Linked DNA regions of Homo sapiens. The protein of the gene in region 4 interacts with the protein of the main gene of each other region in a biochemical or structural test. Each region holds a gene or a part of one and is shown on either strand. Other genes may lie near its edges. The genes, in order: PLCG1, ZAP70, NCK1 and LCP2.

Region 1 (7,665 bases), on a different chromosome or scaffold from region 4:
GCCGTGCCCTGCTTCTACCCATTCGTGGGCTCTCCTTGTTGGTGGGTTCTGATCCCTGCGGCCTCTGAGGAGGTTGGACTGCCAGCCGGGTTTTCTGCCACCTGGACTCTTGCCCAAGCACCTCAGGTATCTGGCCTTTCCTGCTGACCCTACCAGGGTACCAGCAGTGCCTGAAGCCTGGCCTAAGAGAGAGACACTGTGCTACCTTCAGGGTGTTGGTAGACCTGAGGGAGAGACAGTGTGGTTTAAGGAGCACTCATACTGATATGTAAGACCTTCTTCTGCCCTGACTCTGTGCCCTCTCTTGTCAGCAGTTGTGAAATGGAGCTGACACCTCCTGATTTCTAGGGTGGTCATTTGGCTCAAAAGCGGGGTGGGGAAGTGCTTAGGTGTTGACAAGTTTGGTTGTCCTGGTGGTATGACAGGAACCAGGTTGGTGTTTGGCCTTTTATGTTGCAGATACTGACATAAATGAATAAAATGCAGTTATGTAGAGTTCCAGCTGAGTGCTATTGAGACCTTTCGTCCCATTTTACAGATGAGCAAATGGAAATGGAGAATCGTTTGTGCCCAAGGTGTTGTGTCAGTGTGTGCCAGGGCCTCAGCTGGGGCCAGCTCACTAGTCAGAGGCTGACTAGCAACCCCAAGCCCATGTTCCCTGTGGTCCACGTGGCTCCTCTGTGAGACACCTTTGTGCTCAGACCATGCATTACAGGGCAAAGACCACTTTGGCTTTTGTATCCCAAGACAGCCTCAGCCTCTCTAGGCTCTGGCTCCACACTTTTTCTTCTGGTGTTTTCTGAGTTGAGATGGTTCAGACTCGTGTTTAATGAGGTTGTCCATTTGAGGGTCTTTGTGGGCCCAGTAAACACTGGTGTAGACACTGTGGAGGTACTCTGAATACTGGCTGAGCATGTCCATGGGGACTTCTGAGGCCCCAGGCTTCTGTCTTTGGCTGATCCTTCACTAGATACTTTTCTAGATGCCAGGCCCTCTGAGGTGAAGGAGTATGGGTGCTTGCTTTTAGGGAAATGAAAACAGGCAATGACAATTGTGAGCAGTACCTTTGATGAAGAGGGTGAGGGTGGCGGAAGAAAACAGCTAACTGCCTTGATGAGGCAGGCGGGCTCAGAAGGGAGGTAGTAGTGGAACCAGCTGGCTGGGGCTTGACCCCTGTGGCTGGGGAGCAGACCACACCAGGAGGCCTGCTCCGAGGGCTAGGCCCACAGCACGGGAGAGGGCAAGGCCCAGGCCGGTGTCATCAAGGGTTTTCTTTGTACTGGCTGTTACTCCCAGTGGGAGAGGGGCAGGAGCACATGTCCGGATCTCCAGAGCTAGCCATCCCTGCCTGTGTATTTCCTGTCTGATGTAGTTTTTTCCAAGGGAAGTCAGACCTTTTAGTGTTTCCTCAGCACCCCAGGCTTGCCCCGATGTGTGGGTTTCCAGGCCCCCCCGCCCAGCTGGGATCCTCTGTTTCCTGTGAACCTAGGAAAAGGGCCTGCTTCACAGATAACTGGAGGAGCTGAGCACACCCAGTCCTGGGACCCACAACACCTCCAGCTTCTCTCCAGACTCTTGTGTGTGTGTGTACACAGATGCACAGGATTCAGTTGGAGTTTAGAGATCTTGGCTACCAGCTTTGCTCTGGGTAGCTTCTTGGAATGAGGCACATTTATTAATATTTGCAATAAGTATTATTATACCTCCCCATTTGCCCAGTGCTAGGCACCAAGGATTCAAAAGTTTATTGAGACATGGTTTGTGCCATTGATGAACTCTTGGAAAAGACAGATGTAGAGGCATATGATTATAACCCTGTGTGTTACATACCATAATATAAAGGCCTCTACCAAGAACTGTGAGGAGCTCTGCCAGGAAGGCATTAAAGGAGAGGTGACCTTTGAGGTAGGCCTTGAATTACTGAGGCACCTGTCTGTGCCGAGGCTAAGGAACTGGGAATCACTCTGTGCAGGGGTAGGGAACAGATATGGTGTGGTAGAGAGGAAGCTGGGACTGGTTGGAGACAGCTATAGCCCTAGTGTGCCATGTCCAGCAGATTACACTCAGTCCTGGAGGCGACGGGAGTCAGCGGAGGCTGTTGTGGGACTGACTTGCCTCTGCCTGGGAGACCACAGTGGCAGTGGTTTGTCAGGCAGGTGTTGGGGAGGGAGGCCAGTGAGCTCCTACGGTTTGCACAGTTTGCAGGAGAGAGCTGCTGAGGGCCCAGACAAGACCTTCTTGCTGAGGCAGGGTGGGGATGCCATGGTGGTAGATGGGAGAAGGGCTGGGTCTTGAGGGGTGAGACAGAGCTTAGTAGTTAAGCATTTGGGCCCTAGACTCTGCTTGAATTAAAATCCTGTTGTGCAGCTTACTTGCTCTGTGACCTTAAAGCATATGACTACCTCTCTGGGCTGCTTATCTGTAAAAAGGATAGTATTAAATGGCATTTATTTTATAAGGTTTTTGTGAGGATTTGATGAGAACCTGTATAAAGTGCTTAGCACCTGTATAAAGTGCTTAGCATGGAGTGTGGCACAGTGTAAGTGCTTACTACGTAGGATCCCTGACAGGACAGAGATGAGGATTAAGTTCTCAGGAGGACCTGGTGGGGAGGAGTTCGAATGCACCTGCTGTCCTAAGGGGCTGGTGCCTGGCCACCAAGCCCTTTGATTCAGAGGCAAGGAGGCCCGCCCATCCTCTCTTGCAGCTCTCAGCAGTCCCTCTATTGTCAGGGCTCTTTCCCACTGCTGGTTTTGCAGGGAGACAGGGCAGTTGGCTGGAAGCAGCTGCTTTGGGTGGTAACCCCTTCTGTAGAGTGAAGGTATGATATTGTCCTATTTCTAAGTGCCTAGCCCAGGACGCTATCTGGAGAGATCTTGTCTTTGAGGAAGTGCTCTAATGCCACAGCCTCGATGTGGTAGGGCCTGCCTCTGCTGTCACTGTTCTGTGTCAGTCTCCGTTAACTCACAGCATCTCTTCTTACTCTGTGCCTTTTCCTGTGGGATGTGGCTTCAAGGAGACCACAGATGATAAGTTGGAGGAAGGGAGTGAGGCCTGAGATTGCAAAGGTGTGATATTAGGAGACTGATTTTTCCCCCTTTCCACTTGCTTTGTTAGAACTAGAGAAGTCACTGCAGACTGTGAGGAGAGTCCTAGGAGAGATGGGTGTGGGATAGGAGGATGGGAATGTTCTGGTGCCCCTTGTAGAGTGCCTTGTTGAGAGGAGCATGGGAACAGTGCGTCCTTGGAGGGAATCTCTGAGAGCAGCATGTTTACAGGTGGCAAGACTCAAGGTGGAGCCACGGGTGAGGAGTGGCTTCAGGCTACCATTGACCAGATAGTCCCACCTTGCTGGTAATTGAGCTGAAGTGCCTGGAGATTTGTGGCTAGAGCTGGTCAGATTTGGGTTCAGGTCTCAGCTCTTACTGTGACCTTGGGCAGATTACTTTTCCCTGTCTGAAATTGATCTTTAGCTGTAAAAGTAATTTCTCCTCACAGAGCTGTATATTAATAATAAGGGAGATTATATATAAGAGTAAGAGATTTTATGTGAAAACTACCCAGCACAACATTTGTCACTTAGTGGCCACTTAACAGTATTCATTTCCTTTACTCTCACCTTTGTTAACCACAGAGCTCCAATCTTTTCCACCACTAAGCTCGGCCACAAGTGGCTGCTCCAACAACCTGGGCTAGGAGTCTGTTTCCTACTTGCTTTCTGTGTTCCTTCCCTGAGTCTGTACACAGAGGACTGGGGCATCAAAAAACTCTGGAATTGGAATAGCATATTGGGAGTTCATGGAACATTTTCTCACCTGTTGTATTGTTTGAACTTCACAGCAGCTCCATGAATCCATGGAGGGCAGGAGTTACTATCCCTCTCTTACAGAGGAGAAAACCAAGCCCTAAGGGTAAGGTCACATAGCAAGTTCATGGCAGATCCTAGGATTTCAGATTCCTGCTATAGTATTCAGTTTATTCTCCCATTCTGGGGAAAATGATAATAGGATGGACCGTTCTATAGGAACAGAGGGTTATTTTGTTTTGTTTTGTTTTTCTTCCCTCTGGCCACATGTGTTTGACCAGCCTAGACTTCCATCTGTGGACAAGCTGGACTCATTGCCTCAATTTCAAAACCCGTCCTGCACTCATCCTTGCCACAACACCGGTGTCGAGATGCTTGGCCCACCCAGACCTTTCCCACACTCCTACATGGGGGTGAATGTAGCCGCTGATTGGGGGTGGGACACAGAAGAGCCTCACCCTCTTGACTTTCTGGTTTGTGGTGACACTTCCGCCTAAGCTTCTACAGAACATGGGAACCTGGGGCTCCATGCCCCAAATATCCTGAGAAGGGCTTTTCCAGGATTCTCTATGACAACTCAAGAGCATGCATTCATTCATGTGCTCTTTAATTTGTCATACATTTGTTGTGGGCCTTGCTACTGTGTGTTGGGCACACTGAGCTGGATGTGATTACTCCAGCCTCTGACTTGTTCATGGTGGCAGTAGATCTCTAGCGTGGTTTGTGTTCCATCTCACCATACCTACTCTCCTTAAAAAAAAACAAAAAACTAGCTTTCTTGGGCCTCAGTGGCTCATTGAATAAGTGAGAGACGACTTGTGCTTCCCTGGCTTTAGACTCTGGCATTTGCTAACTGTGCCAAGCACTGTGGAGACCAGTAGTGGACATAAGGTTAGGGTAGATACAGCCAGAAAGGAGATAAATAGGCAGACAGATAAAATTCTTATAGGATTTGGTGAGTTCTATGAAGGAAATAAGGCAAGAGGCTGCTCTGTCAGGGTAGGTGAGGGTGTGCTGTGATAACAAATGATGCCCACATATCAATGGCTGGCAACAAGGAAGGTTAATTTCCCCTGTTTGCTATGTGTGCTAACCTACACCACCGTCCCTGGAGAGTGGCCTCAGTGGTTCTGGGTGAGGCCTCTAGTACAGAACCTGAACACCCTGGGCAAACTAGGCTGGAGAGGGATTTGGAGTATGGAGGTTTAGAAGGAATTAATTTCTATGACTTAGGATGCATGTGGTGAGTGTGGCTTTGCTGTTGTGGTAGAGTAGAGTGCTGCCTGTGTGGGTCAAGAGACTGTCTTGGCTGACATCTTTGAAATAGGTATATTTGTGTGGCCCTTGCCTAATTGTCATCTCTGCCATAGCTGCCCCCGCCTTCCCCACCAACCCATGGCCCTACTTGAGCTGCCTGCTGAGCCTACTCTGTTGTGGCCACAGTATCCTCCTGCTGCCCAGAGTTTGAGTTTCTCGCTACTTCTGCCACTCATCACACTTGCTTCCCAGAGCTTTGCTGGGTGTGCTGAAGTCTCCAGAGAAAGTGGGGAATATGGGTGCCTAGAGACTTCTAGGGGGTGTTTTCAGCCCCTAGAGAGTAGAGAAGTGTGAGAAGGGGTTGGTCCCCGAATATTCTGTAGTTTTGGGGAAGAAGCAATGGGGACAGTGGAGTTGGTTGCCTTAAGAGAGGCTATGGTCCCAAGAGATGGGACTTGGAGAGTCTCTACTTGCATTCCTGGCTAAGCCCTTAATATTCTCGCACCCCTCCTTGCAAGACTAGTTCCTTTTGAGGTGGTTCTTGGCTAGCTTTTGAGAGGCTGCAGTGGCTGTGTGCCCAGGCTTAAGTCCTAGCTTTCTCCCCACTCTTTACCTCCTAGGAACCGGGCCCATCCTGGGGGAGGCAGGGAGGAGCTCCTTTTTATAGTCCACATGTAGGCTTTGTGTATAGGCTCTGCTGCTTCCTTCCGGCCCTGGCCCTTCCTGGTGTTGGCCGGTGGCCCTGGCTTCAGCAAGACTCAGGATGCAGAGTAAACGGGGCAGGGCGTTCTCCTACAGAAGACTGGCATCCCTTTTTACTGAGCCCAGGCCTGGCACAGAGGAGGCTGGAGTTAGGAAGCAAGAAAACGAGGTGACCCAGTCCTTGATCCTGAGAAGCTTGTGATCTGGACCATGCAGAAAACCGCTAATGCCCAGGGCTGGCAGGAGACAGCTGTGCCTAAAGTGCTGTAGGCTGGGCCTGAGGGCCAAGATGGAATCGCTTTTCTCCCTGTAGCAGCCCATCCTACCCCCTGGGGTCCCTCCACCTGCCAGCTGGCACACAGGTGTTGGGTAAAGCATCTGTACAAAGGCTGTGAGGGGCCTGGGCGCAAGGCAGCAAGGCTTGGGTACGGAGGAGAGTGGGTGGTCTTACTGATGTTCTGGGCCCTGACAGTGAACAGCTGGCCAAACTGGTGAGGAGTTGGGCCATGGCGAGTTTGGCCACTTGTTTGTGTGTGTTTAGTTCTTCCTGGGCACAGGTGGGGAGTTCACTTTGGGGTTGGCTTCCTGTTTTCTTGGACACCTGGGGATATGGTTGAGTTAAAATGTTCTGAGGGAAATGATTGTTGAGGGCATGGGCTTGGGTCATAGTGTCCTTGGCTTGGCCTTGCCCATGGTAGGAGTCGGGTATTGACCACACTGGGTTCTGGCTGTGTAGGTGTGGATGTGTGGTGGGAGAATTCCAACCCCACCTTGACTTCAGCCTAAGGCCCAGAGAGTGTGGGCCTGAGTTCACAGGGTGACTAACCCTAGGAAGGAGTGAAGGAGAGCTCCAGTTGGCCATAGGTCCCACAGGTTTCTCAGCTTACTTGGGGGCAGGAGGTGAGCTAAGGAATACAACTCCATTCCCTCAGTTGGGAGGTTGGGCAGCGATGGGGGCAGGGGTGATGGTCCTTCTCTGAGGCACTGAAGACCCACTTTATGGTCACCCTATTCTGCCTGATAGTCCACCACCTGTTTGGAGGCAGCTCCCCTCTTCCTGCCCTAGTCACTTCCTCCACCTTCAACAGTAATTGAGTATAATGTGCCTGTGTTAGCTTGTCCATCCTAACTGGGACTGTGGCCTTTTCTTGGGCGTTCTTAGCATATCTACCAAGGAGGTTGGAAAAGGTAACATATGTCACTTTGTTAAGGATTTTGCTGAGGGCCTTTTGAGGCCAGCAGTGAAACACAGAGCATTCCCTCCAGTGAGAACAGAATGTCTGTTGCCAGACTGATCACAAGAGGATGGCCTGGTTCTGGCCTGAGAACTGGTCTACACCGGAAGCATGAAGCTCCATACAATCATGTGTGCTAGTAAAGTTTGGGCAAGCAGCTGTCCTAAGCAGGTAAAACGATAGGTTATTCAACTTCAACTTCAGAGAAAGAAATCCAAGGTAGCCATCTCTCTCAGTAGGGGAGGTGAGTTCAAAGAATTTAAGCTGGGCTGGGCACGGTGGCTCACGCCTGTAATCCCAGCACTTTGGGAGGCCAAGGTAGGGGGATCACGAGGTCAGGAGTTCAAGACCAGCCTGGCTAAGATGGTGAAATCCCATCTCTACTAAAAATACAAAAATTAACCAGGCGTGGTGTCAGGCGCCTGTAACCCAGCTACTCAGGAAGCTGAGGCAGGATAATTGCTTGAACCCGGGAGGCAGAGGTTGCAGTGAGCCAAGATCGCGCCATTGCACTCCAGCCTGGGTGACAGAGCAAGACTCTGTCTCTTTAAAAAAAAAAAAAAATTTAAGCTGGGCTTTCTGGGCAGGCAGTGAGTGAATGAGATCCCTGGCACCTTGGAGTGAGATCAGAGTCTAGATCACTCACTGGGGCCCTGTTTCCCAGGA
Region 2 (7,665 bases), on a different chromosome or scaffold from region 4:
TGAAATGTAGTGGCTTAAAACAATGGTCATTTACAGCCAAGTGTGATGGCTCACACCTGTAATCCCAGCACTTTGGGAAGCTGAGGCAGGCGGATCGTCTAATGTCGGGAGTTTGAGACCAGCCTGGCCAACATGGTGAAACCCTGTCTCTACTAAAAATACAAAAATTAGCTGGGCATGATGGTGGGTGCCTGTAATCCCAGCTACTTGGGAGGCTGAGGCAAGAGAATCACTTGAACCCAGGAGGTGGAGGTTGCAGTGAGCCAAGGTTGCACCATTGTACTCCAGCCTGGGCAACAAGAGCAAAACTCTGTCCCAAACAAACAAACAAACACCGATCATTTATTCACTCTTGTTTTGCTTGGCAATTTGGCTGGTTGCTTGGTAATTTGGGCTGAGTTCAGCTGGGTGCCTCTTCTGCTGGGTTTTTGAGCTTACTCATGTGGCCACAGCCAGCTGGAAGATTGGCTGGAGCTGGATGGTCTCTGGGATGGCCTCACTCACATGAATGGCTATTGGCCACTCATGTAGGGTGCCTTGGTTCTCCTCCATGGGCCTTCTCTAGCAGGCTAGCTTGGACTCATTCCCATGGTATTTGGAGAGCTGCCAGGAAAAGCAAGAGAGGGCAGGCCAACCTCAATGTTCAACCATTTTTCAAGCCTCTGCTTGTGTCATGTTTGCTAATGTCCTGTTAGCAAGGCACATGGTCAAGCCCTGATTCAGAAGACAGAGGAGGAGGCCCCACCTATTGATGGGAAGAGCTCCCTAATATTGTGGCTGTTTTCCCCCAGTATTCCACATGGAAGTTTAAATAAACAAATAAGGAGGAAATTATTAGTTCTAGAAGAAAGAATGAAAGAGACAGACAGACTTGGTGGCTCACGCCTGTAATCCCAGCACTTTGGGAGGCCGAGGCAGGTGGATCACGAGGTCAGAAGATTGAGACCATCCTATCTAACACAGTGAAACCCCATCTCTACTAAAAATACAAAAAATTAGCTGGGCGTGGTGGTGTGCACCTGCAGTCCCAGCTACTTGGGAGGCTGAGGCAGGAGAATGGCATGGACCCAGGAGGCAGAGCTTGCAGTGAGCCGAGATCACGCCACTGCACTCCAGCCCGGGCTGTGGAGCGAGACTCGGTCTCAAAAAAAAAAAAAAAAAAAAAGAGACAGAGGAGGGGAGATGGGAGGTTTGCTGTTTGCTGGTGAGTGGCTTGGCATGGAGTCTCTGTTGTCAGTTTAAAACTTCAGGTTGTGACCCTTAGGAGGTGTTTTCACTTCTCACAGTCCCTGGAGACCATCACCTCCAGGCCAGCCTGCCACCTGCCTCTGACTTCCACAGCTCTGAGACCCCCAGGGCCAATAGCCCTCCCTCCTCACTGGAAAGCTGCACTTAACAGGAGCTTGTGCCAGTGACTCAAAATAGAAATGTTTTGTGGGAGATGTTGACTGGTGTCACTGCGGGGTTTCACGTGACGGCGCTGCATCTGCTGTCCCAGCCTACTGTCTCTGTGGGATGTTTGTTTCCTAATTTGTGGTGGGTTCTCTTCCTTGCCCTTTTGTGTGCCCTCATTGCCCCCGCCCTGATTTCCCATCTCTCCATGTTATCTCCAGACTGTTGTGGGCTAGCCTGGGAACTGCCCCACCCTTCACTGCACTGTACTTCGGGGAACGTGCTGTCCAGGAATGGAGAGGATGGTCACAGCTGCACCTCTCTCCCTCACTCAGGGGACATTTCCTAAGGAAGGGCCTTATTGCAAGGTGGGCCCATGGCTGCCTTGCTCACTGCCATATCCCTGCGCTGAGAACAGTGCCTGGCCTGTCAGTAAAGACTTGTCCAGTGAATGAACATCCACAGGCAGGGCCAGGCCTGGTCTGAGAATTTGCACCTTGGAGGGTGCAGCTCGCAGGCCATCACAAGGGCTCTTCTGTAGTGCAGTGCAATCCCTGAGATCAGGAGTCGGCTGCTTCCGGCCTCCACAGCTTCCACGGGGCCAGCTGCCCTCCCTCCTCACTGTAAAGCTACACTTGACCCTGCAATAGAGGCTTGTGCCAGTGACCCCAGACAAAACTGTTGTGTGGGGGATGCTGACTGGTGTCACTGTGGGGCTTCATGCGAGGGTGCCGGTGTCTGACACTAAGTTGGTCTGTGTTGAGGGGGGATGTGTGTACTCAGGGCTGGAGCGGATGGGGGGACAGTTTCTTACCCCACAAATGCACCACCTTTGAGGGGCTCAATTCCCATCATAGACATGGAAGATTTATATATTTATATTGACAAAATTCCAGCAGAAGGCAATCGAGGGTCTCATTCTAGGAAAGGTCCATCTATTATGGAACTGGTCAGTCTCGTGATGAGAAAGTGACTTGTTTTGATTTGCACAGGGGTGCCCTGTAAGCTTGTCATGGAGCTGCGCCTACCTGTGTGGGTCTGTGTGGAAAAGGCTTTCTCTCCCCAGGAGAATGGTGCTAGGTCTACCTGTTGAAGGCTCTGGGTCTGTTGTAGAAGGCCAAGTGCCCCCCATGGTTGGCTGACTGTATGGCCGAGTGTACCCCCAATGAGTGCCTGTGGATGACTATCTCTCTGTGGATGGCAAGTGTCTGGCCGTGGATGGCCAACTGTTCAGCCATGGGGGACCAGGTGTTCCCCAGTGGATGGGTGTCCCCTCCTCCGTGGCTGGGTGTCCACCGTGGGGGGTCAGGTATTCCCCGTGAATGGCCATCTGTTGGCTCTTGGAGAACAGTGCATTTTCCTGGGAACACAGCCATGGCCCCTCCACCGCCCTCTGCCACTTGGCCCATCATCAGCAGATCTGGAGGTGATGGGGGCCTGGCCTGGCTTCCCCAGTCCCTGCAGCTTCTCTGCAAGGCTCTGAGGTGTGGAGCCCATAGGGTGTGTTGCGGGGGAACCGGGGCACAGCAGGAGGCCCCCAGGTGGCTCTAGGGGTTACATCCCCTCCCTTCCCCTGCCAGGCTGAGGCCGCGGAAGGAGCAGGGCACATACGCCCTGTCCCTCATCTATGGGAAGACGGTGTACCACTACCTCATCAGCCAAGACAAGGCGGGCAAGTACTGCATTCCCGAGGGCACCAAGTTTGACACGCTCTGGCAGGTAGGCTGCCCGTGCAACTTGTTCTGGGAGATGCCGTGCTCAGATGGGGTGCCGGGCTCTGGGGAGGAGAGGAGCCTCTCTGCTAGCTGCCTGCTCCCTGCAGCTGGTGGAGTATCTGAAGCTGAAGGCGGACGGGCTCATCTACTGCCTGAAGGAGGCCTGCCCCAACAGCAGTGCCAGCAACGCCTCAGGTGACGGCAGCAGGCGGGCGGGCGGTGGGCGGGGGCGGCAGGAGACCTGGCCCCCAGCCCTCACTGTCCCTTCTGCTCCCCCAGGGGCTGCTGCTCCCACACTCCCAGCCCACCCATCCACGTTGACTCATGTGAGTTGGGGGCACCTGGAGTGTGGCCTTGGGGATGGAGCTGGGGAGTGGCTGTGGGGGAGGCTGGGATGGAGGCTGGGGTGCCTGTGGAGCGGAAGAAGCTCTCTCTCCACTGTCTCTGGGAGTCCTCAGTGGATATAGGTCTCATGAGAGGGGCTGGACGTCCCCAGCTCAGGCCTTGCTGACCCTGTGGCCTTTAGCCTCAGAGACGAATCGACACCCTCAACTCAGATGGATACACCCCTGAGCCAGGTGAGCGGGCAGAGGTGGGGACGCGGGTTGGGGCTCATGCTGAGCCGAGATCAGGGTCGCTGTCAGGGCTGTGGGGTTTCACGGGGGGCGCTGTGGGCCGGGCCAGGCTGTGGCAGTTGGCTTGGTTAACACCTGTGCACACATGTGCCCACACCCATCACACCTGCCTGTGCACATGTACGTCCCAGTGTGTACTGACGTGCAGGGAGCACACTTGGCCTTGCCTGAGGCTCCCCAGACACACGTTTGTTGAGTACCTACTATGTGTCAGTCACGTTCCGAGGTCACTGTGTGTATGAGCCACCGAACCCTCCTGACATGCCTTATGAAGTGGCTATGGTGATTAACCTCACTTTACAGATGAGAGAGGGAGGGGTCTGTCTATGGGGATGTGAGGCAGTGGTAGAGGCGGGATGTGAACCCACGATGGGCCCCAGAGCTCACATTCCTAAAATGGTCTGCTGCGGGTGCTCCTGTTTCTCATGGGTGGGCCCAGACCTGAACATGTGTATGCACAGAGAAGACACATAGTTACATGTGCACCTAGAGGCTCGCTTTTGGAGGCCTCGTAAATGTGGCTGTGTGCTGCATACGCAGACAGGGACGGGCCCGGCCATAGGCGTACACGTACGAATGCACACACATGCACACCCCAGCTGGCACAGTAACGGTGCCACGTGGATACCAATGCACACGCCCCTAGAGTCCACCCTCATGTGGCTTCATGGGGCACCCACAGCTGTGGCCAGGAGTGTATGCCAGTGTGTGCGTGTGGATGTGCAGGAACACGCATGGGCACCCACCTGCTTGTGCATGCTCCAGGGACGGCACCCTTGTCTGGGGCAGGTGCTTGTGGGGGCTGAGGCTGCCTTGCTCCCCACACCCCTGCCCCTGACCTGGGAGTGTACCGCTGTGTGTGCCCAGCACGCATAACGTCCCCAGACAAACCGCGGCCGATGCCCATGGACACGAGCGTGTATGAGAGCCCCTACAGCGACCCAGAGGAGCTCAAGGACAAGAAGCTCTTCCTGAAGCGCGATAACCTCCTCATAGCTGACATTGAACTTGGCTGCGGCAACTTTGGCTCAGTGCGCCAGGGCGTGTACCGCATGCGCAAGTATGGCCGCCCCTGCCGTGGTGGGAGCACCGCCGCCTGGGGCAGAGGGGAGTGGCTTCACCGGGCTGTGGGACGGGAGCCGGGATGTCTGTCTCACAGCAGTTTGCCTGGGAAACAGACTCTGGGGCAGGACGTTGCACGCTGGAGGATTCCCTGAGAGAGCTCGGGACACCTGACGGGGGTGGGATGGGGCCTGGGCAGGGGGAGGCTGTGGAGCTGAAGTTCCCAACCCAGGGGAGCTGCAGTGGGGTCCCCGATCCCTGAGTCCACTGGCCCCTGACAGGCTGCCCCTGGGGAGGGTGTCACTTTGGATTCTTTTTGGCGATGGGCTGTTCCCGGTGAGCGATCCGGCTGTGAGCCGTCCTCAGCAGACGCTCCAGGCTGCAGGGACATTGAGCGCCTTGGTCCCAGCCTGGGTGGCGACTACAGTTGTCTACCACACAACTCAAGGGAGAAGAGAGATGGGTGGGTGGGGGTGTGGGGCCGAGCAGGGCCGGTGCCCCTCGCCCACGTGCCTCCCGTGGCCGGGTCGGGCAGGAAGCAGATCGACGTGGCCATCAAGGTGCTGAAGCAGGGCACGGAGAAGGCAGACACGGAAGAGATGATGCGCGAGGCGCAGATCATGCACCAGCTGGACAACCCCTACATCGTGCGGCTCATTGGCGTCTGCCAGGCCGAGGCCCTCATGCTGGTCATGGAGATGGCTGGGGGCGGGCCGCTGCACAAGTTCCTGGTCGGCAAGAGGTGAGCACCGGGTGGGCCCGGCCATCGGGTGGGTGGGGCCGGGGCCCATCCTGGGCATGGTGGACATGCACCCGCGTGCATGCGTGTGTGGGAAGCCGGGGCACTTCCACACCATCGTGGACACACTCTCAGCCTGCACACCCACACCCATACCCATGCCTGCAAAGCAGAGCTAACCCTCAGTCCACCATTGCACCAGTGCGGTAATAACAGTGTCTACCTCCAGGGCCTTTGCGAGGATCGAATGAGTCGGCACCTATAAAGGGCACTGCTAGGGCCGGGTGCGGTGGCTCATGCCTGTAATTCCAGCACTTTGGGAGGCCAAGGCGGGTGGATCATGAGGTCAAGAGATCCAGACCATCCTGGCCAACATGGTGAAACCCCGTCCTTACTAAAAATACAAAAGATTAGCTGGGCGTGGTGGTGGGCGCCTCCCAGCTACTCAGGAGGCTGAGGCAGGAGAATCGCTTGAACCCACGAGGCGGAGCTTGCAGTGAGCCGAGATTGTGCCACTGCACTCCAGCCTGGGGACAGAGCGAAACTCCATCTCAAAAAAATAAATAAATAAAAATAAATAAAGGGCACTGCTAGTAAGAGCTTTGTACACATCAGCTGCTCCCCAGACTCCCTGGGCCAAATTCATGGCCCCTGGGAAAGTGCCCATTGCCAGTTATCTGGAACCTGCCCTTTGTTTACGTGCTGCGTGGTTTTCTATTTTTAATTTTTTTTTTTTTAAAGAAACAAAAACGAAGATGTGACAGAGATCACTTGTGGCCTGTAAAGGCTAAAATCCTTACTATCCGGCCCTTTACTGAAAAGTTTTGCAGTTTCATTTGTGGTTCCTCATCCCCAAACTCTTACCCTCACAGACACAAGTTCTGCACTCCCCAAGGCACGTTTTTGCTGATCTGTGCCCTCTGGCTGGTGCACACACCTTCCCAGTGTGCCCCTGGCTCCCACATTCAGTCATTTGACAGGTGTTTATTGGACAGTTTCTCAGTGACAGGAACTGTTAGTAGCACTTGGGATTCATTAGCGAATAAACAAGGCAGAGATCCATGCTCTGTATTCTGGTTGGAGAAGAGAGACAGTAAGTAACAATCCTGATGAAATCTAGAGCATGTGGGAAGATAGTGTGGTGGGCACAAGCCTGCCGCAGCTCCAGGGGGTTGGGAGTGTTGGGGTGCGAGGTGCAGTGAGCAGGGAGGTTTGAACAAACTGAGGGAGGCCGCCATGCCCAGACGTGGGGAAGGGCATTCCAGGCAAAGGGCACCGCCTGTGCAGAGGCCCTGAGGTGGTCCCGTGCCTCGTGTGGTGCGGGCAGGGAGGGGATGAGCAGACCGTGCCAGGCCTTGCGGGCTGCCAGGAGGACTTGGAGTTTTACCCTGAGTTGGGTGGGAGCTAGGGGGTGCTGTGAGCAGAGGAGGGGGAGGACCTGACTCAGGGGCAGAGAGGACAAGACAGTGGGAGACAGGAGGGAGCGAGGGCCTGGGCGGAGCTGACTATTCCTGCCTGGGGGTCCAGGTGAGTGATGCTGCGGCTGCTTCCCGGTGGCAGAGGCAGAGATGAGGAGTGCGGTGGATTCTGGAGAGATTCTGACACCAGAACTGCCAGGGTTTGCTGATGGATTGGGTGTGAGAGAAAGAGGAGCTGCTGGAGAGGACAGTGGAGGAGCCATATGTGTGTGCACATGGGGATGGGGACAATCAGGCCACATTATCTTTGAGATGCCTGTGAGACCTCAGCACGTCGAGGGTGCAGGCATAGGTCTAGACTTGGGAGTCGTAGCGTGTGGGTGATCCCTAAAGCCTTGAGACTGGATGAAGGCAGGAGTTTTGCCTGTTTTGTTCACTGCTGTGTCCCCAGCCCCACGCCTGGCACACAGCAGGTGCTCAATAAGCGTTTTTGAACACATGGTCACCTGGCTCATGCCCAGCTGGGTCAGAGAAGCATGCTTTGCCCCTGGGAACTTGGCTAGTCTTCTCCCAGCTGACCCCGCCTTCCCCGCCACCCCAGGGAGGAGATCCCTGTGAGCAATGTGGCCGAGCTGCTGCACCAGGTGTCCATGGGGATGAAGTACCTGGAGGAGAAGAACTTTGTGCACCGTGACCTGGCGGCC
Region 3 (7,665 bases), on a different chromosome or scaffold from region 4:
AGTTTCTTTGCTAAAACATAACAAGAGTCACCTTTGCTCCAGTTCCCAACAAGTTCCCCATCTCCATCTGAAACCACCTCAGCCTGGACTTTATGGTCCATATCGCAATCAGCATTTTGGGCAAAGTCATTCAACAAGTCTAGAAAGTTCCAAACTTTCCCACATTTTCCTGTCCTCTTCTGATCCCTTCAAACTGTTCCAACCTCTGCCTGTTACCCAGTTCCAAAGTTGCTTCCACATTTTCGGGTATCTTTTCAGGAGCACTCTACTCTACTGGTACCAATTTACTGTATTAATCTGTTTTCATGCTGCTGATAAAGACATACCTGAGACTGGGCAATTTACAAAATAAAGAGGTTTAATGGGCTTACAGTTCCACATGGCAGGAGAGGCCTCACAATCATGGCACAAGGTTAAAGGCATGTCTTCTCACATGGCGGCAGATAAGAGAAGAGAGTTTGTGCAGGGAAACTCCCGTTTTTAAAACCATCAGATCCCACAAGACCTATTCACTATCACAAGAACAGCACGAGAAAGGCCCACCCCCATGGTTCAATTACCTCCCACCAGGTTCTGCCAACCACACGTGGGAATTGTGGGAGTAACAATTCAAGATGAGATTTGAGTGGGGACACAGCCAAACCATATCAGTTACATTTATATAAAGTTCAAAAACAGGCAAAAATAGTTTATGGCGATAGAGGACAGAATAGTGATTACCTTTGAGAGGGAAAGAGACACTGATTGGAGGGGGCGCAAGAGAGCCTTTTCGAACACTAAAAATGTTCCACATCTGGATTTGAGTGATGACTACACAGATATCTACAAATATAAACATTCTATACATTTAAATTTGTGCAGTTTTCAATAAACATTTAAAGATACTTTCTCTAAACAAATTTTTAATTTTGTTTTTTTTAGACAGCGTCTCGCTCTGTCCCCCAAGCTAGAGTACAGTGGCGCGATCATAGCTCACTGCAGCCTCGACCTCTTGGACTCAAGCAATCCTCCCGCCAGCCTTGCAAGTAGCTAGGACTACAGACGCTCACAGCCAAACCTGGCTAATTTTTTTTTTTTACTTTTGTAAAGGCCGGCTCTTGCTATATTGCCCAGGCTGATCTCTAACTCCTACCCTCAAGGCATCCTCCCACCTCAGCCTCCCAAAGTGCAGGATTACAAGCATAAGCCACCATGCCCAGACTAAACAATTTTTTAAAAAAAAATTAGTAAGCTTTTTAGTTGGATCCACAACAGGAATTAATCAAAAGGAAAAAAAATGTAAAGCCTTATACACAAAGATCTTTATTGCAGAATTTACAATAGCAAAACACATACACACACCTGGAAATAACATTTAATAAATGAATGCCATGCCAACCCTGGATTTCTCTGGTGTGAGAGAAATTAATATTTGGCATCTGTCTGATACTAGTAGCCAAACTTAATGCTGATTAACCTAAAGGAGCCATCTGCCCTGAGGAAGAGCATGATCACAGACACCAAAGCAAAAAAGGGCTAAGCTATTCAAGGCTGAAAGAGGAAAGAGACAAAAGCAAGAGATGAAGTGAGACGTAGACAAAAGCCAAATCATGCAAGACCTCACAGGCCTTTTTTTTTTTTTTTTTTTTAAAGACTATAGCTAAGAAATGAAAAGAAAAAATAAAGTAACTGATTTCCTTGGGCAGCAGAATTACTGGGAGACAGGGGTTGTACACTAAATATTCTAAATGTTTCTAAAAATGAAAATATATTATTCAAGAGCATGTAGTACTTGCAAATGATCAAGCATTTCCAAAAAAAACTGCCCAGCCCTATTAAATTTATAAAATATTTCTGCGATACAGCTGGAATAATTACAAGGTACACAACATATTACAGTATTTGTTGTATCTATTATTTGAATTGATCTACACACTAACATATGAAAATACGTGCTAAAATTTTTGGAAGAAAAGGATGAATTTTTTTTTTTTTGAGATTAAGTCTCTCCTTGTCACCCAGGCTGGAGTGCAGTGGCATGATCTCGGCTCACTGCAACCTCTGGCTCCTGGGTTCAAATGATTCTCCTGCAGCAGCCTCCCAAGTAGCTGGGATTACAGGCATGCACCACCACGCCCAGCTAAATTTTGTATTATTAGTAGAGACAGGGTTTCACCATGTTGGCCAGGCTGGTCTCGAACTCCTGACCTCAAGCGATCCACCTGCCTCGGCCTCCCAATGGGATTACAGGCATGAGCCACTGCGCTGGGCCAGGATGATTCTTTTAAAAAAAAAAAAAAAAAAAAAACTTTTGAGAAACATCCATTCTTTTAAATATTTCCACATATTTTCACTGCTTGTTTTATTCAACTGGCTGTTTGAACAAAAGCAAAAATTATCCATACCATATTCATGTCCAATTCAGCAATCATTACTTACAATTTCAGGAATAGAAACAAGAGAATCAGTGTTTTAACAGGTTTTTTTAACTGATAATTTAAACAAATAGAAAAAGCAACTATTAACAACCAAAAAATAAATGAAAAACAGACCAAGAGAATAAGCATTCCTTTCCCTCCACAGAGAGATTTTACCTGATAGTCTTCTATGCTGTCTTACAGCATTCAACTATTGTTACGTACACATAAGAAAAATACGAAAGCAACCATACATGGTTTCTGTTACAGAAACTTTAGAGTTAAGAGGAAAAATAAACATGAAGAACAAACATATAAAAGCACTCTAACTCACCAAATGGAACAAATGATTTTTCTTTCTTTCTTTTTTTTCTTTTGAGACAATCTCGCTCTGTCACCCAGGCTAAAGTGCAGTGGCGGGATCTCACAACCCCGCAACCCCTGCCTCCCGGGTTTAAGTGATTCTCCTGTCTCAACCTCTTGAGTAGCTGAGATTACAGGCATTCGCCATCACACTCAGCTAATTTTTGTATTTAGTAGAGACAGGGTTTCACCATGTTGGCCAAGCTGGTCTCGAACTCCTGGGATCAAGTTATCCGCCCACCTCAGCCTCCCAAAGCGCTGGGATTACAGGAGTGAGCCATCAGGCCTAGCGGAACAAATAAAATTTTTTTTTTTTTGAGACAGAGTCTTGCTCTGTTACCCAGGCCGGAGTGGAATGGCATGATCTTGGCTCACTGTAACCTCTGCCTCTGGGGTTCAAGCCATTCTCCTGCCTCTGCCTCCCGGGTAGCTGGGACTACAGGCATGCACCACCACAGTGGGCTCATTTTTTTATATCTTTAGTAGAGATGGGGTTTCACCATGCCGGCCAGGCTGGTCTCAAACTCCTGGACTCAGGGGCTCCGCATGCCTCAGCCTCCCAAAGTGCTGGGATTACAGACGTGAGCCACCGCGCCCGGCCTCAACAAGATATTTTGTCTTGTCTTGCTCAACAAGAAGTGATGGTTCCTGACAGATGAACAAGAGGACAAAAAGTAGCAAAATGTGAAGGTGTTACAGTTCTAACACTCAAAAGAGAAAAAGAACATTACAGCTAGATCACTGCATTTAGTTATATGATAAGCCCTCCAGGTTTCCTCTAAATCATTACATTGTTCTGTATCCACATTCAAGGCCTCCAAAGATTAATTGGCATTATCAAGAGATTCGAAAAGACAAACTAAATTGCAGCAGTAAAACCTGTAAGAGATTCATTTTTTAGCAGATGATAGAATTCAATGGTAAACACTGGCCAGGTGCGGTGGCTCATCCCTGTAATCCCAGCACTTTGGGAGGCCAAAGCAGGCTGATTAACTGAAGTTAGGAGTTGGAGATCAGCCTGGCCAACATGGTGAAACCCTGTCTCTGCTAAAAATACAAAAATTAGCCAGGCATGGTGGCAGGCACCTGTAATTCCAGCTACTTAGGAGGCTGAGGCAGGAGAATCCCTTGAACCTGGGATGCAGAGGGTACAGTGATCCGAGATTGCCCCACTGCACTCCATCCTGAGTGACAGAGCAGGACTCCGTCTCAAGAAAAAAAAAACTCAATGGTAAACATGACAATATTATTTTTGTTAATGGTGTTAATACACCTAACAAGTATAGGGGAAAGAAACTGTATATAGACTTTATATCATTGTTTAAATAATTTACAATGTAAGGCTGGGCATGGTGGCTCATGCCTGTAATTCCAGAACTTTGGGAAGCCAAGGTGAGCGGATCACCTGAGGTCAGGAGTTTGAGACCAGCCTGGCCAACATGGTGAAACCCATCTCTACTAAAAATACAAAATTAGCCAGGTGTGGTGGCAGGTGCCTGTGATCCCAGCTCCTCAGGAGGCTGAGGCAAGAGAATTGCTTGAACCCGAGAGGCGGAGGTTGCAGTGAGCCGAGATCATGCTGCTGCACTCCAGCCAGGGCAAAAACTGCGAAACTCTGTCTCAAAAAAAAAAAAATTTACAATGTAAATATGAAGGTTCCCCTGCCCTGAAGTTTTCAATCTATGAGAAGGCATAAATACACAAAATGCAAAATAATGTGAGGCAAATAAGGCAAAATTACAAGAGATGAGAAGTAGTATGGTTTCATAAACACACAGAACTTGCGTCAGAAGATCAAGGGTTGAGTCTTTGTTCTGCCCCCATCACTAAATGTTTGAATTTTGGTGCATCTAGTCTATTTGTATTTCAGTTTCCTTATCTGTAAAACACAAGGTTGGATTCCAACATTCCAGCAATAATGCTCTATAATTCTATGATTCAAGTCCACACAACATTAAAAACCAAGGGAATACTAAAATAATAAGGGGTATGGGTTTAAAGGAAAGCAACAGACCAGGCACAGTGGCTCACCCCTATAATCCCAGCACGTTGAGAAGCCAAGGTGGGAGGATCGTTTGAGGCCAGGAATTCAAAACCAGTCTGAACAACACAGTGAGACCCTATCTCTACAAAAAAAAAAAAAAAAAAAAATTAGCCAGACATTGATGCACACCTGTAATCCTGGCCTTTGGGAGGTTCAAGTTACAATGAGGAGCTGTGATCAGGCCACTGTACTCCAGCCTGAGCAACAGAGCGAGATCCTGTCAAAAAAGAAAGAAGAAAGAAAGAAAGAGAGAGAGAGACAGACGGACGGACAGACGGATGGATGGACGGAAGGAAGGAAGGAAGGAAGGGAAAAGAAAGAAAAGAAAGAAAGAAGGAAGGAAGGAAGGAAGGAAGGAAGGAAGGAAGGAAGGAAGGAAGGAAAGAAAGAAACAAAGAAAGAAAGAAAGAAAGAAAGAAAGAAAGAAAGAAAGAAAGAAAGAAAGAAAGAAAGAAAGAAAGAAAAGCAAGCAACATAGGGAACAGGAAAAACATTTGGAAGACTGCACCAAAGGACCAAAAGCGAAAATTCAACAAATTTTACTTCATTTGCTACTTGGTAATTTAGGAGAAAAAAAAAATTTTAAAGACTAGGCAAACTGGACGGGCACAGTGGCTCACGCCTGTAATCCCAACACTTTGGGAAGCCGACGCATGTGGATCACCTGAGGTCGGGAGTTCAAGACCAGCCTGGCCAACATGGTGAAACCCCATCTCTACTAAAAATACAAAATTAGCCAGGCGTGGTGGCATGCACCTGTAATCCTAGCTACTCGGAAGACTGACACAGGAGAATCACTTGAACCAAGGAGACGGAGGTTGCAGTGAGCCAAGATGGTGCCACTGCACTCCAGCCTGGGTGACAGAGTGAGACGCCTCAAAGAAAAAAAAAAAGAAGAAAGAAAGAGGCCAGGCACAGTGGCTCACACCTGTAATCCCAGCACTTTGGCAGGCTGAGATGTGTAGATCACCTGAAGTGAGGAGTTTAAGACTGGCCTGACCAACACGGAGAAACCCCGTCTCTACTAAAAATACAAAATTAGCCAGGCATGGTGGCGCATGCCTGTAGTCCCAGCTACTAGGGAGGCTGAGGTAGGAGAATCGCTTGAACCCGGGAGGCAGAGGTTACGGGGAGCCGAGATCGCACCATTGCACTCCAGCCTGGGCAACAGAGCGAGACTCTGTCTCAAAAAAAAAAAAAGAAAGAAAGAAAGAAAAAGGAATGATACGAAGGTACAAAAATACAAAGAGTAAATAAGAATCAGAGATTGGTTTGGTTAGAGTGGACAGCTCCTATAAAGAAATAGTGCTGGCACTGATTAAAAAAAAAGAAAGAAATAGTGCTGGCCCCAGAAAAACAGGTTTGAGCAGACTGTTATTAGGCTATGAATTCTGAACTATACTCTGAAGATAACAGAGAGTTATCACTGGTTTCCGAAAAGTGAAGGATGTGTTTGAAGCATAATTCTAAGATTTAGGAAGACATACTAAGTAGAGAGAAAAATCAAGCAAAAAACCCAATTAAAGGCTAGTGAGTAGTTCAAAGATAAAAATGGCTGGCAAAAATCAGCCAATATTGTTACACGCATAGAGATAAAACCAAAGTTTGTGTCTGGGTAATTGAAAGCATGGTAATGTCACCAAAACAAAGTCAGCATATGGAATCAGTTTTGAAGGGAAGACTATAAATTCTATCTTCATTAGAGTTTAAGGTGAGGATCAGCCAGACATAAAGTTTCCTTAAATCTTTAAATGTCATATTTAGCCTTGTTGTCTTCCTAACATCACAGTATTTATAGAGAATTTGTTAACTGCTCAGTGATTTCAAAAGTTCCCTTCAATTTTACTTATTAATGAAATAATCATTTAATTTTCTAGTGCAGATAAAGAACATTTGGTATTTTTCTATATTATAAAGGTAAATTCTAAAAATTATTAAACCATGATTTTAAAAATGAACTGTATCTGTATTCATTAAGTCAAGTCTTCCTGACAAGTGATTTATAATAATCACATCAAATATACCTTCAGCTTTGAAAAACACATGGTGAAAAAGTAAAATAAGACAAAGTAAAAGTACAAAGCAATGAAAATGTAAAACTCTAGAAAATTTTTGAAAAATGAATATAGGCCAGCCACGGTGGCGCACACCTGTAATCTCAGCACTTTGGGAGGCGGAGGTGGGCAGATTGCTTGAGGTCAGGAGTTCGAGACCAGCCTTGCCAACATGGTGAAACTCCGTCTCTACTAAAAATACAGGCCGGGCGTGGTGGCTCATGCCTGTAATCCCAGCACTTTGGGAGGCCGAGGCAGGTGGATCACGAGGTCAGGAGTTCAAGACCAGCCTGGCCAAGATGGTGAAACCCTGCCTCTACTAAAAATACAAAAATTAGTCAGGCGTGGTGGCAGGCGCCTGTAATCCCAGCTACTGGGGAGGCTGAGGCAGAGAATTGCTTGAACCCGGCAGGCAGAGGTTGCAGTGAGCCAAGATCCCGCCACTGCACTCCAGCCTGGGCAACAGAGTGAGACTCCGTCTCAAAAAAAAAAACAAACAAAAGAAAAAGAAAAATATATATATATACAAAAAAATTAGCTAGGCATGGTGGCACACACCTGTAGTCCCAGCTACTTAGGAGGCCGAGGCACAAGAATCGATTGAACCCGGGAGGCAGAGGTTGCAGTGAGCCAAGATCGTGCCACTGCACTCCAGCCTGGGCAACAGAGACTCTGTCTCAAAAAAAAAAAAAAAAAAGAAAAGAAAAAAACCCAGAACCATGAAGTATCACTAAGTATCTCTTTTCTTTATTATTTTCCTTTTTAAATTTTTTTATATTTTCTTAATTTAGAGACAGGGTATCACTAC
Region 4 (7,665 bases):
ACAATAGCTTACAGTAAATTAACTGTCAGAATTCTATACTTTTGAAGGCCCTAGCAACAGACCACCTATCAGAGCCGAAGGCAGAAACTTCCCCTTGCCACTTCCAAACAAACCTCGGCCCCCATCCCCCGCGGAGGAAGAGGTAAGAGAGCATGTTTTTATTTTTGTTTGTTTGCCTTTTCCCTGGTAAAAGAATCACCAGAAACTCCCATTGAATGTTCTTCTGTACTTTTATCTTCCCTTTGTTTTATTTTATTTATTTGAAAAAAAAGTTAAAGGAGAAGATCCAGATGAACAATATGTTCTTTTCCCTTGGCGTTCTTTCAGACGCTTTCAATGGCAAACATGTGTTTTGCATTAAACAGCAAGAAAAATAATCCTGTTTTTTATGTTTATGACCTTGATTCGTCACTTAACTGCTCAATAACCCATTTTTTTAATCAAGCAGGTTATTATGCTAAACTGAAGAAATTATTGTATCTGTATCTTTCCTGAAGAGGTTCCATACTGTAAGGAACTCTTATTCACAGGCATTTTTGCAACCAGTGTCATGATAAAAAGCAGTTCGCACAAAATATCTTCTATTTAGCCCCAGCTAAATGACTCTGAATGCAAATTAAGAAAACAAATGTTTCAGACCTCCTGGAATTGAGGTGTTGATTTATGGAAATGATTACTCAGAGGCTTTTCTTTTCACTTACATCTGTAACTGTAAAATTTATTCAGTTTCTAAAAATTTACATTTTCAGAATTCATTAAATGAAGAGTGGTACGTTTCTTATATTACCCGACCAGAGGCAGAAGCTGCTCTTAGAAAGATAAACCAGGTATTGTGCTATAGTTTATTTTAACATAGTTGTAAATATTAATGGCAGAGAAGGGAACTGACCTGTCCTGAGTACCAATTACAGGCTAGGAATTCTGCTAGGTGCTGTTGCTTTCTGTAATACCTAGGAGACCCATTAGTGCCAGCTTCACAACTACCAGCACCCATAGCAGGGATTCCTAGGCTCGGGAATCATTAGGCTGGCAGAAGAATCTCAAGGCAGTCATTTGGTTGGCAGCATCTTAGGAGATTTTATTAATGAAAGAGTCTGTCTTGTCATAGGAATCACATGGTGTCAGAAGGAGACTCTCTTTCAAAGTTCCAACATCGTACCAGTTCTATCTTCCTCTTAACACAGACGTGCCATCCATGTTGATGTGAAAGGACCAATATTAAAGAGATGGCAGCAACTTTTTGCTTTTTGCCCTAGACGTTTCTAGCTAGTCCTTTAATATCATAAAGTCTTAAACATATTTCCCGTAGCCAGTGCCGAAACTTTACCTTAGATTTATTTATCAGAAATGGGAAAGCAAAAATCTTTCATCTTTCACACTTAAACTCCACACCAGTAGTTCTCAGTAGTAGTTGCACATTTAGATCACCCGGAGAACTTTTGAAAAATCCCGATTCCTGGGTCTCACCTTGAGATTCTAATTATTCTGGGGGTGCTGTGTCAGCTCTGGGAGTCTTCAAACTTCCCAGGTAATTCTAATTTGAAGCCAAGACTGTGAATCACTGGTCCAGAAGTATGTTTGTTTAGCAGAGATGTTCTGACAGGCTCAATTAACTTGCAATAAAAGGAACAAAGGAAAGTCATTATTGCCAACTCATGGCTATTTAAAGCTATCCTGATTTGGTATGAGGAGAAGGGAGTAGTTTAAAGGAGTCCTTACCAATTAATTCTATTTTAATATTAGATCTTTACAGTATTAATATTATGTAGCAATAATTTATTGAATGGAAATTTAAAGTACAGGACAATCAAAACAGTAGTTTAGCAAATATCAGAAAAAAGAAAAGAAAAGAGAACATCTGCATTCAATTTTGCTCAAGGGTCTGATGAAGGAAAGACTATCTAGAGATCACAGGGTTTTAAGAAGGGTGAATTTCATGGCATGTGGATGTTTTCTGACTTTGGATGTGGAAAAGAAAGTTTAGGGAATTAACTCACAGGAATACTAGGAAGATATATCTTGAGTTAACCAATAAAGTATTTTATTTCTCCTGGCCTTTTATCCACTCAACCACCCATTATTTATTACTGAACAAAAGATTCCGTTTTTATCAGGAGGCTTTAACGAGATTGACTTGGAAATTTCTTTGATACAATCTCTGTTGCCTTTCTTAATAACAAAATAACTCATGACACATGGGATATGTAGCTGTTTGGAGAACTGAATGTTCGTTGAATGACAGGTTTTGCACTCAAGAAGCTGCAAAGTGCAACTGACATGTTTGTCAGATCCCTAGAGGCTTGTCTACTACTCTTACAAGCAACAAAAATATTGACTTTTACTGCTCCCATAATAACAGGAATTTGTCTTTTTAGGATGGCACATTTCTGGTCAGAGACAGCTCTAAAAAAACAACAACCAATCCATATGTCCTCATGGTGTTGTACAAAGATAAAGTTTACAACATCCAGATCCGTTATCAGAAGGAAAGTCAAGTTTACTTGTTGGGAACTGGACTCCGAGGGAAAGAGGTAAGGATTTCAAATTTCGACATTTTCCCAAAGTCTTTATTTATGCCACTCTGCATGCCTTCATGGAGCGATCTTTGAGAGTCCGTGCTGTATGGCAAATTTAGGATTAAATCACATGAGTGAAGCCCTTCATTTATTGGAAGAGAAATAAAGCAAAATCTTTACAATGGTTACTTCTGCCATAGGATTCTTTCTTGTATATCTTTTCTTTCAAATAATCACATGTATAATTTTCAAAATCAAGAAAAACTATGTTAACTTAAAAAAATCTATTTAGATGGTGTCAAAGGAAAGTTCCCACTATTATTCACCTCTGTGGCATAATTTTAACGTAGGCTGCATTTTAAGTTGACACCACCTGGAAAAGGGGAAAAATTAGAATATTTGCTGGGGTGATTATTCAAATACTTGGCTCATTTCTTAACAAAATGGAGGTTTGGCTCTGTGAGGATGGCCAGATCGCCAAAGAAATTCTCTGTTAGGCCAAGGTTTAGATTCTCATGCCAGTCACTTTTTGAGTGCTAATCAGAACGGATGGAAAGAAACCCTCAGGGCTAGTTTTTCGCAAAGGAAACTAACAACTGAAGGTAACGCCCCAAACATACTCTAAGTTCAAAGTTCCAAGAGGAGGACCAGCTGAATCAAACATGTCCAGAATGAGAAACAGCTTACCCATAACTTCTGCTTCACATACTTCTGTTATGATAATGTTAATGAATAGAAAAAAAATGCATGCTTGTGATCAAATGTTTGAATCGCTGGTTGGCAGTGGATAGAGCTGCACAGACCCTATAGGAGCAGAGGTATTTGCCCTTCAAGATTTATCTTGGTCCAGTGTGGAAACACACAAGTGCAGACCAACCACTCATTGCAGCTCCCATGGAGGGAGGCACCTAGCAGATTAGTCTTAAAGGAAGTGCATTATCCTGTTAGGGTTCCTAGGTGAGTTGTGACCCACATCTAGAAAAATGAGTTAGGCTTTTCCCTCTCTAGCAAGCAATCAAGGCTGGGGCGATCCAGGCTATGGCTGCAAATATTGGTTGCTGAGCCTTTATGAGTGTGAAGGTGGCAGTGAGGACACAGCAGAGAGATCATGAAGGAACTCCTGTGCCATGCTGCAGATCCCACCTCTAGACACCATGAACCGTGTCTGACCTCCTGAGTCCTTATGTTTCCTAACACTATTAATGACTGGGGGTGAAATAGAGATGCAGAAACCAAAACCAAAACCAAAAACAGAGCAACCCGAGGCAAGAATATTGTAATAGTGACTATTTAAATGACCCCTTCATATGAAGTTAAAAATATATGCATTTCAAATTACATATATATATATATAGATATGTAGATATATATATATATATATACACACGCATGCACATATTTTATCTATTTTTTTTTGAGATGGAGTTTCCTTCTTGTTACCCAGGCTGGAGTGCGGCAATGGCGCAATCTCGGCTCACTGCAACCTCTGCCTCCCAGGTTCAAGCAATTCTCCTGCCTCAGCCTCCCAAGCAGCTGGGATTACAGGCGCACACCAGCACGCCCAGCTAATATTTTTCTATTTTCTAGTAGAGACAGGGTTTCACCATGTTGGTCAAGCTGGTCTCAAACTCCTGACCTCAGGTGATCCACCGGCCTTAGCCTCCCAAAGTGCTGGGATTACAGGGGTGAATTACTGCACCCGGCCCATATTTTATCTTTATCTATGGTTTGTTGGATGTTTATGAGGAATTTTTTCAAAGTTCTATAGCAGAAATCATTAAACTAATTGCCACATTTACATTTTTTCCCCCCACAATCCTCATCACTTGAAGAGGCAGCATATATTATGCAGATAAAAAAACTGAAAGTGAAGTTCCTGCTTTTCATTCCAATGTTGACTCATCTCCCTATCTTGACTCTTTCAGGACTTTCTGTCTGTGTCAGATATTATTGACTACTTCAGGAAAATGCCACTTCTGCTCATTGATGGGAAAAACCGAGGTTCCAGATACCAGTGCACATTAACGCATGCTGCAGGGTACCCATAGCAAGTTATAGCCGAGCAAATGAACCGTCCTCCTGCCTCTGTTGCCAACACGAGATCAATCAGCCTTGGTCAATGGACAAACACTTAGGACTGAACTGAACCCCTCCCCATGAACACAAGGGTTTTATCCTTTCCTTTAAAAACAGTGTTTGAAATGAAGACTGTCAACTATCCCATAATTTATTTATTCTTCTTCAATGTTTGTAAAGTGCATGAGTCATGTTCACACTTGAAGTCTAGTAGTGCACTGTAATAATTCATTTTTTAAAAGATTATTTAATGCCCATTTCAAAATACAGTAGTTTACACAGCTACAGAAACAATTTGGGGCAAGTTTTAAAACACTGAAACAGTAATAGTTATTGGTGTCACATAAAACTGATTTGTTTTTTACAGCCAAACCTCTGTCAGTCAGAGGCATTCATTAGTTTTATACATGTAATTTGAAAATCACTAAACCTCGTTTTCTCAGCAGCAATAATTTAAGAGGCTTCAAAAATATAATTTCACTCTTATTTAGTATTTTTTCCTGGGGGCATTTTTACGTAATTTTTTTATGAAAAGACAAATGCATGTTGAGATAACTTCTGGGATTAAAATAGTCTTTTGCTTTACTTTTTTGGTTTCCTAAAACAACTTTATTGACTTTTAGTCCATACTGTTATATTTTTGTCTTAAAGAAAATTTAAACTACAAATACCAAAAGAAAACATTTTAAATTTAGGGATGAGACTTTGGTGTATCGTGGGTCTAGGTTTAATGAACACATCTGGGGTTAAGTTGGCATTTCTTCACATCTCCACACCCACACCAACCATCACAGCCCCCCACCAACCTTCTCCCAACCCCAAAAGCATTGTCCAGGGATATAGATTTTACCAAAGGCTTCCTGGGAAGACGAGGGAGCAACACTTTAGATTAAATGTGATCAGACTTTCCTATTAGATATGGCTCTTCTGTCTCTTGTTATCCCCCTGACAGCTCTGCCATAAAGTCCCTTCTCCTCATCCTTCCCAAACAGGCTGTATAAGTGCTTTGAGGTAATTAAACTCTTTCCTCCAGTTTACAAATATCACTTAACAAAAAATATAGGCATTCAGCCAGATTAAAAAACTGGTATTCAGCCAAATAGTGACAATCAGTTGTTCTTCAAGTTTTTCCCTTTGGGACCTTGGTTGTTATTGCACAACTTTTATTAGCAACAATTTTTGGCGTCTCTGCTTAATCTACAAGTTTTCGAAATGGAAAAGAGTATCTTGCAGCTTCATTTTCATGAGCTAATAAAAGGGGTATTGGAAGGAATCTAAGAAGTCACCATTTTAAAACTGATGATATGTTAAAATAAGGAGTATGCAGAAGGTAGAGACTTTTAACTGATGATAAAAATGGTGTTTCACAAAATCTCATCCTTAACAACCAGAAGTTCTCAGTTTAGGGTCCAAAACTTGGGAGTTTAAGGCTGAAAACCCTGCATTCATTTACACGTCTACACAACGGGCTATTCAGCAAGTATTTACTTAGTGGCTCTTCTGTGTTAAACAAGTGAGCTAGGTACAAGGTAGTAAGGATAGCATACACCATAGGTTCTAGTATCGAGTAAGCTCCACTTGTCTTGCTTTGCCGTATTCTATCTTTACAATTCAAAAATATCTAAAATGAAGGACCTGATAGATTTCAAAGCAACTATTTGGTAGCGAATCATGTTTATAAAACAAACCAAAGCTCATTTTAAGTCTATTAGTGGAAAGTGCCATCAGGATTAAGATGTTCTGTTCCATGGCTATGACTGAAATCAATGTTGGGAAGCTAATGTTTTCATGACTAGCATTCTCTCTCTGTTCAAGCACCGACAACTCCTTTTGGCTGGGCCTTGCCTCTTTTGGCCACAGACCTTCTATATGACCCCAGGTGCATCAGTCACAGTTGCTCAGAACCCTGCTCAGTGATAAACATCTTACTAAAGCTGGGTCAATCAGGGTCACTCTCTGGAATGTTAAACATGAAGCCTGAGACAAGATCTCTCTTTTATCTGGGGTCCCCAAAGGCAATGCTGTACACTTGGAGCTGCCTGCTGCCCTGCAACTACTCCCATTTACCAATTATCTGGAAGAACCAGTCTACAATAGAAGACAACGAGGCCAACACACAAAAACACAGTAAAAGTATGGACAAATTAGTGGGATCCCTGAAATCTATTCCAACTATGTGCTTCCAAGTCACATGACTCAATAAATGCTTCAGCTGGTTGAGTTGTGCTTGGCGTTCACTACCAGGAGAGTTCTGATTAATAAAAACTCATTCCATCAATTAATAATTTAGTAGCTCTCTTTCAACCTGAGCCAAATTCAAGCATAAGCTAAAGGATAAGCAGTGACCCATGGCCAATTTCCTATGTCATACACTTGCCATTAGTGACGTAAGTTAAGCCATTCTTCAAAACATTAAACAGCCTTCAAGAACATGAACTGCTTGTTTACATTATTTTTATTTTGTTTTAAATTATATATATACAAATTAGTAAACTCAACTCTCCCAAATATTTGTTAGTTCAACAATAAAACAGAAACTCATAACAAATAAGAAATCAGATAGAAAAACTGTTAGAAACAAGGGATACATCTGATATTTTAGACTCTTCAAAGAGGGGGTTGTTTCTTTCTGCTTCTGCTAAGTTCTCAGTCTTGATGGGATGATTAAAATGTAGGATAAGGTCACAAAGCAATAACTGGGAGAGCTCTGTGCAAAACAAAACAGGAGATATTATATTGTAGCACATATGTCATAAAAAACTATTATTGCTTTAAGTAGCTATTTCTTCCTAATTCCTAATTTCCAAGTGATTAGTGATCAAACCACAACTTAAGTGTGTCCCATTCTGACTTAAAATAAGATTTATGCTCTCGAGGAGCCAAGATGGCTGAATAGGAACAGCTCCGGTCTACAGCTCCCAGCGTGAGCGACGCAGAAGACAGGTGATTTCTGCATTTCCATCTGAGGTACCGGGTTCATCTCACTAGGGAGTGCCAGACAGTGGGCGCAGGTCAGTGGGTGCGCGCACGGTGTGCGAGCCGAAGCAGGGCGAGGCATTGCCTCACTTGGGAA

The links.
Region 1: the proteins of LCP2 (region 4) and PLCG1 form a complex in vitro, tested with the Homo sapiens proteins (2 studies listed by BioGRID).
Region 2: of the proteins of LCP2 (region 4) and ZAP70, one has a biochemical effect on the other in vitro, tested with the Homo sapiens proteins (2 studies listed by BioGRID).
Region 3: the proteins of LCP2 (region 4) and NCK1 form a complex in vitro, tested with the Homo sapiens proteins (2 studies listed by BioGRID and IntAct, with this or other methods).

What each region holds. Positions count from the first base shown.
Region 1 is NC_000020.11:41,140,303-41,147,967, forward strand, and holds part of PLCG1 (1-phosphatidylinositol 4,5-bisphosphate phosphodiesterase gamma-1), read left to right. Parts: intron 1-7,665. UniProt on the Homo sapiens protein: Mediates the production of the second messenger molecules diacylglycerol (DAG) and inositol 1,4,5-trisphosphate (IP3). Plays an important role in the regulation of intracellular signaling cascades.
Region 2 is NC_000002.12:97,729,911-97,737,575, forward strand, and holds part of ZAP70 (tyrosine-protein kinase ZAP-70), read left to right. Parts: intron 1-2,972; coding exon 2,973-3,111; intron 3,112-3,214; coding exon 3,215-3,302; intron 3,303-3,386; coding exon 3,387-3,433; exon of another isoform or gene 3,434-3,633; coding exon 3,634-3,685; exon of another isoform or gene 3,686-4,609; coding exon 4,610-4,802; intron 4,803-5,339; coding exon 5,340-5,546; intron 5,547-7,562; coding exon 7,563-7,665. UniProt on the Homo sapiens protein: Tyrosine kinase that plays an essential role in regulation of the adaptive immune response. Regulates motility, adhesion and cytokine expression of mature T-cells, as well as thymocyte development.
Region 3 is NC_000003.12:136,864,651-136,872,315, reverse strand, and holds part of NCK1 (SH2/SH3 adapter protein NCK1), read right to left. Parts: intron 1-7,665. UniProt on the Homo sapiens protein: Adapter protein which associates with tyrosine-phosphorylated growth factor receptors, such as KDR and PDGFRB, or their cellular substrates. Maintains low levels of EIF2S1 phosphorylation by promoting its dephosphorylation by PP1.
Region 4 is NC_000005.10:170,245,596-170,253,260, reverse strand, and holds the end of LCP2 (lymphocyte cytosolic protein 2), read left to right. Parts: intron 1-47; coding exon 48-142; intron 143-690; exon of another isoform or gene 691-749; coding exon 750-827; exon of another isoform or gene 828-1,613; intron 1,614-2,375; coding exon 2,376-2,531; intron 2,532-4,441; coding exon 4,442-4,564; 3' UTR 4,565-7,028; downstream 7,029-7,665. Other genes in the region: putative uncharacterized protein C5orf58, read right to left, coding at 7,148-7,299. UniProt on the Homo sapiens protein: Adapter protein primarily involved in signaling pathways within T-cells, as well as other immune cells such as platelets, mast cells, and natural killer (NK) cells.